2 separate regions of the Homo sapiens genome follow, and region 2 is linked to region 1. Evidence: fine-mapped expression QTL. A gene starts in region 1. The other region holds a variant in brackets. All regions are shown on one strand. Distances are between the middles of the regions. Region 1 holds the start of DNAAF3 (dynein axonemal assembly factor 3). Region 2 has its middle 33 kb from the start of LILRA2.

The links. PIP is the estimated chance that this variant, and not a neighbour inherited with it, causes the effect. A credible set is the group of variants that fine-mapping cannot tell apart.
Region 2: its variant is the best candidate, but not a certain one, in a credible set for the expression of DNAAF3 in uterus (GTEx, PIP 0.86).

What each region holds. Positions count from the first base shown.
Region 1 is chr19:55,164,975-55,167,882 of GRCh38, reverse strand. It overlaps DNAAF3 (dynein axonemal assembly factor 3), which reads left to right and starts at 1,270. Exons shown (of 12, transcript NM_001256715.2): 1 at 1,270-1,360; 2 at 1,466-1,554; 3 at 1,883-2,025; 4 at 2,420-2,513. The coding sequence starts at 1,470. It overlaps DNAAF3-AS1 (DNAAF3 antisense RNA 1), which reads right to left. Exons shown (of 4, transcript XR_007067345.1): 4 at 979-2,064. LOC124904795 (small nucleolar RNA U13) reads right to left here and starts at 712; the gene lies at 609-712. RefSeq lists a silencer at 1,659-1,890.
Region 2 is chr19:54,538,971-54,541,878 of GRCh38, reverse strand. It overlaps the pseudogene KIR3DX1. Among named protein-coding and RNA genes, the nearest start is that of LILRA2, 33 kb to the left of the region's middle. The variant G/A (reference allele first, on the strand shown) is at 1,628.

The sequences.
Region 1 (2,908 bases):
TATTGTCTTCCCAGTGCCCAGATCTGCCCTCAGGAGGCAGATCCGCTGCACCTCTGCCCGCTGCACGCTACATTCCCATTTCACAGAGCAGCAGACTGAGGCTCAGAAAGGGTGACTGGTCTAAGCTCATGTGTCTGGGCAAGGAGAGGAGGCAGAGAGCCAAGTCCCCTTGGGCGCTGAGCCCAGTGCTGGGTGCTGGGGTGATCTAGAGATGTGCCTCATTCAGACTTTGGTTTTTCTTTTTTTTTTTTTTGAGACAGAGTCTTGCTCTGTCGCCCAGGCTGGAGTTCAGAGGCGCGATCTCAGTTCACTGCAACCTCTGCCTCCCAGGTTCAACAGACTCTCCTGCCTCAGCCTCCGGAGTAGCTGGGATTACAGGTGCGTGCCACCACGCCCGGTTAATTTTTGTATTTTTTAAGGTCGAGGCGCGGTTTCACCATGTTGGCCAGACTGGTCTCCAACTTCTGACCTCAAGTTATCTGCCCACCTTGACCTCCCAAAGTGTTGGGATCACAGGCGTGGCCACAGCGCCCGGCCGACTTACCCTTATTTTAATGCAGTTGATTTAACTGTACGATTACAGAATTTACCTGTAATTTTTTTGTTCATGTCAGAAGAGTAATGTGCCGATGTCGTAACAAGGTTTGAGGGAGGCACATCTCACGCATGCGCGTGAACACCCAATCATCCCGCTTAGAAACTACAAAAGGATCTAGCTGTAAGTTTAAATTATGGCTTCGTGTAACAATAACCAGCTCACAAATCCCTGAATTTTTAATGACCTGCACATCAGTGTCCCACCTGTGGGCTGTTCTGTGTGGTAGAGCCCACGTTGTGCTGGGGCGGGGAGCGGGCTCAGAAGCCTGCCATCTAAAGTCTAGACACTTCACTTTATTTGAATTGATGAAAATTCCGTTACGTATGAGCAAAGGCATATGAAGAAAACAAAAAAACAAAAAACAAGAAATAAGATTAAGCTCCCTTCACTCTCAATTTTAATCAGCCCAGGCCTCCCCCATTCCAGAAATTTGGACCGACCCTGACTCCGCCCCAACCTGTTCTAGCACCGCCCCTTCCCCCGCCGGCGCCGTCGTCATGACAACCGCGTCCACACGCCCTCTTCTCCTAGGTGTGGGGGAAGGCTGGCCCTCAGTGCTCCCATTGGCCAAAAGTTTGTAGAGGGCGGGCCTCGCTCACTCTCATTGGTCAGTTGCTCGCTGTGGTCCCATCCCACATGCTTCCATTGCTTGATTCCTCGAAAAGGGCGGGGACTCTGGGCAGCGGTTGTGGAGTGCCGCGGGTCCACAGTGCTGCACTGAGCAGAGAGGAAGGGGCGTCCCGGGATATTTGGAGGATAAAGGTGTGGGCAAGGTATCATGTGGAGGCAAAGGGGCGAGAAGTGAGGGGCGGTGAGAGGGGAGCGGGGCGGGCAATGTGTGCGATTCCCAGAATGTCTTTTCCGCAGGGTGATGACCACACCTGCCGGCTCCGGCAGCGGCTTCGGCTCCGTGTCCTGGTGGGGCCTGTCCCCGGCGCTGGACCTGCAGGCTGAAAGTGAGTCCCAGCACGCAAGGTCTGATACACCGTCTGCCTTCCCAGCCTGAGCAGACGGCCTTTTAGAGCTCGTAGTCCCAGCGTCGGTGGCAAGGGGGGCGCTAACGTTCTCCAACGCTCCAGCGGCAGAGGGCGCGCTCCCAGGGGCAGCCCCGAGGTCCTGTCTGCGGACTGCGAATCCCAGAATACTCAGAGGAAACACCTCCCCTTAGAACCTAGGCCACGGGCGGAACGCCTACTGGGATTTGTAGTCCATTTTTTATAGGGGATGCTACGGTGGACGCTCTGCCAACCACCATGGTGCCCCAGCCAGCTGTCATCTTGCCAGGTCCTCCTGTGGACCCAGACTCCCAGGCCGATACAGTGCACAGCAACCCCGAGCTAGATGTGCTGCTTCTGGGCTCTGTGGATGGACGGCACCTGCTGCGGACCCTGTCCCGAGCGAAGTTCTGGCCTCGCAGGAGGTTCAACGTGAGCTGGGATGAAGATGAGAGCCCAGATTCCCGAGTCCTTGAGGGAGGAAGGGATTGAAATTCTAAAACCTCAGGTCCAGGAATGAAGGGGCTGGAGACTCCTAGATCTGAGGGAGGCAGAAGCTGGGAGCGAACCGATGCGTCTTGGGGGAAGGAAGGGGCTGGGGTTTGGAACTCCTGGGTTCTATAGTGGGGAAGAGCTCGAGGATGAGGTCTTCTGAGTAATGGAAGGGAAGAGAGCTCTGGGGACACAGACTTCTGTGTTTGAAGGAAGAGGCTGGTGTACAGAACTCGGGTGTGTGGAAGGAGAGAGCTGAGGGCCTGCTCTCCTGGGTCTCCTAGGACCCAGGCAAACAGGTCTCAGAATTATTCTGCCCTGTCCATCCTTCTAGTTCTTTGTGCTGGAGAATAATCTGGAAGCTGTGGCCCGACACATGCTGATCTTCAGCCTAGCCCTGGAGGAACCGGAGAAGATGGGGCTGCAAGGTCTGTTGCTAGGACCCAGGCATTCTGACCGCTGGTCTCCTCCCCCTCCCTAGAGGGATTCTGGCATTTCAATGGTACAATTAAAAAGTTTGGTTATTTTCCTGGGAGGCGGAGGTTACAGTGAGCCGAGATCGCGCCATTGCACTCCAGCCTAGGCAACAAGAGCGAAACTCCGGCCGGGCGCGGTGGCTCACGCCTGTTAATCCCAGCACTTTGGGAGGCCGAGGCAGGAGAATGGCGTGAACCCGGCAGGCGGAGCTTGCAGTGAGCTGAGATCGCGCCACTGCACTCCAGCCAGGGTGACAGAGCGAGACTCCGTCTCAAAAAAAAAAAAAAAAAAAAAAAAAAGAGAGCGAAACTCCATCTAAAAACCAAAAATGTTTGGTATTTTCCAG
Region 2 (2,908 bases), 630 kb after region 1:
CCCTCGTCCCTTCTCAGCCCAGGACAAATACACTTTCTGAGAATGGAGATAGAGGTGGCCAGAGGATGACTCTCATGCCAGTTTCTGAGAATTGAACTTGCTCCAAACAATGTTGGTGTTTTTCTGAGTAATGAGTAAGAGCAGGTGGGTGGAGGATTCAGGAGAGAAAAAGGGGAGGGGGCACAGGCTATGTCACATAGGAGCATACCCTCCGTACCAGGACCCATGCTGAGAGGTGGTGGGAGGACTTCCACATGTGTGGACACATCTCATCACTCTCTCATCCATGATATAGTCCTTGAAAGAGAAAAGACTGTAGCCAGCCGTACTCTTGGGCTCAATTCTAGACATGTCTGCTACTTCTAGACATTCAACTTGGGAAGCTTTTCTTTCTTCTCTTTCCTACTTTTTTTTTTTCCATAAGGAGGGAGGCATCATTAGCCCAATATTCTATCCAACAACTTGGATGCTTTGGCCAGGTGCCATGGCTCATGCCTGTAATCCCAGCACTTTGGGAGGCACAGACAGGCTGATCACTGGAGTTCAGGAGTTCAAAACCAGCCTGACCAACATAGTGAAACCTGTCTCTACTAAAAATACAAAAATTAGCCGGGCGTGGTGGCAGACACCTGTAATCCCAGCTACTTGGGAGGCTGAGGCAGGAGAATCACTTGAAACTGGGACATTGCAGTAAGCCAGTTTCATACCACTGCACTCCAGCCTGGGCAACACAGAGAGACTCTGGCTCAAACAAAAAGAAGAAAACAAAAGAAAAAAGAAAAGAAAAGAAAACGGATGCTTTCCAAGATGAGTGACCATAACTAGCAGAGCCATCCATTGAGCCCAAGTGTCTGATTATAATCTTTTCTCTTTCAAGGACTATGTCTCGTTCCCCCATAAGGCTCCCTGCTGAGTTGCTACTTCTCTGATAGCCCAAGTATGAGTTGCCATCAATGGAATCAGAGGCTCAGAGAGAAATGAGCGTGCCCCAGGTCATGCACTGAGAAATACTGGAACAAGTTTCCAAACTCTCCCTCTTAGTGACTCCAGCTCTGAGCCTCTCCTGAATCCACCTGCTCAACTCCTTCTCCAGCCCCAGCACATCTAAGCTGCCATGAGTGTCCTCTACAAGGATGTCACAGCCCCACCAGGCTCCTGGCTTCCACTCCTGCCTCCCTGTAATAAACACTATTCACATCGGCCGATTGCTATCTCTAAAATAGAATGTGGATCATGACACGTTTCTGACTAAAACCTTTGTCTTCGGCCAGGCACAGTGGCTCATGCGTGTAATCCCAGCACTTTGGGAGGTCAAGGTGGGTGGATCACCTGAAGTCAGGAGTTCAAGACCAGCCTGGCCAACATGGTGAAACCCTGTCTCTACTAAAAATACAAAAATTAGCCAGGCTTGGTGGCGGGCCCCCTGTAATCCCAGCTACTCAGGAGGCTGAGGCAGGAGAATCGCTTGAACCCAGGAGGCGGAGGTTGCAGTGAGCCAAGATCACGCCATTGCACTTCAGCCTGGGCAACAGAGCAAGACTCTGTCTCAAAAAAAAAGAAAAAAAAAAACGGCTGGGCACAGTGGCTCACACCTGTAATCCCAGCACTTTGGGAGGCCAAGGCAGGC[G/A]GATCACAAGGTCAAGAGATCGAGACCATCCTGGCCAACATGGTGAAACCTGGTCTCTACTAAAAATACAAAAATTAGTCGGGTATGGTGGTGGGTGCCTATAATCCCAGCTACTCAGGAGGCTAAGGCAGGAGAATCACTTGAACCCGGGAGGCAGAGGTTGCAGTGAGCCGAGATCACGCCACTGCACTCCAGCCTGGAGACAGAGTAAGACTCTGAAAAAAAAACAAAACAAAACTTGTCTTCACCTCTTTATTGGAATAAAATCCAAACTCTTTACTGTTGCTTAGAAACCCTCACTTGGTAGCACCAACAGGCTGGCTCTAGTCAATAAGAACTTTACTGTACATTTTAAAATAAAAAGCATAATTGGGGCCAGGCATGGTGGCTCACACCTGTACTCCTAAGACTTTGGGAGACTGAGGCGGGCAGATCACCTGAGCTCAGGTGTTTGAGACCAGCCTGGACAACATGTTGAAACCCTGTCTCTACTAAAATACAAAAAGTTAGCCAGGCATGGTGGCGTACACCTGTAATCCCAGCTACTTGGGAGGCTGAGGCAGGAGAACTGCTTGAACCCAGGAGACAGAGGTTGCAGTGAGCGGAAAGCGCGCCAATGCACTCCAGTCTGGGTGACAGAGCAAGACTCCATCTCAAAAAAAAAAAAAAAATCTTAATTAAATTGTTTGTAACTCAAAGAATAAATGCTTGAGGGGATGGATGCCTTAACCTCCATGATGTGCTTATTTCACATTTCATGCCTGTATCAAAACATCTCATGCGCCTGATAAATATACACACCTACTAGGTACCCACAAAAATTAAACATTTTAAAAACGAGAAACGTTCACACAAGTTGGTCCCTGTCCTCCTCTCTCAGCTCCACCCCTCTCCCCCGGCATGTCAGCCTCACTGGTGCTGTGAACACACACAAGGCATTGCCATGTTGAATTTTTTTTTTTTTTTGAGACGGAGTCTCGTCCTGTCGCCCAAGCTGGAGTGCAGTGGCATAATCTCGGCTCACTGCAACTTCCGCCTCCCGGGTTCAAACAATTCTCCTGCCTCAGCCTCTGGAGTAGCTGGGACCACAGACATGCACCACTACGCCCAGCTAATTTTTGTATTTTTAGTAGAGACAGGGTTTTACCATGTTGACCAGGAACAGCTCGATCTCTTGACCTTGTGATCTGCCCGCCTCAGCCTCCCAAAGTGCTGGGATTACAGTTGTGAGCCCTGCGCCCAGCCCTGCCATGTTGAGTTTATGGCACCACTGTTTACCTG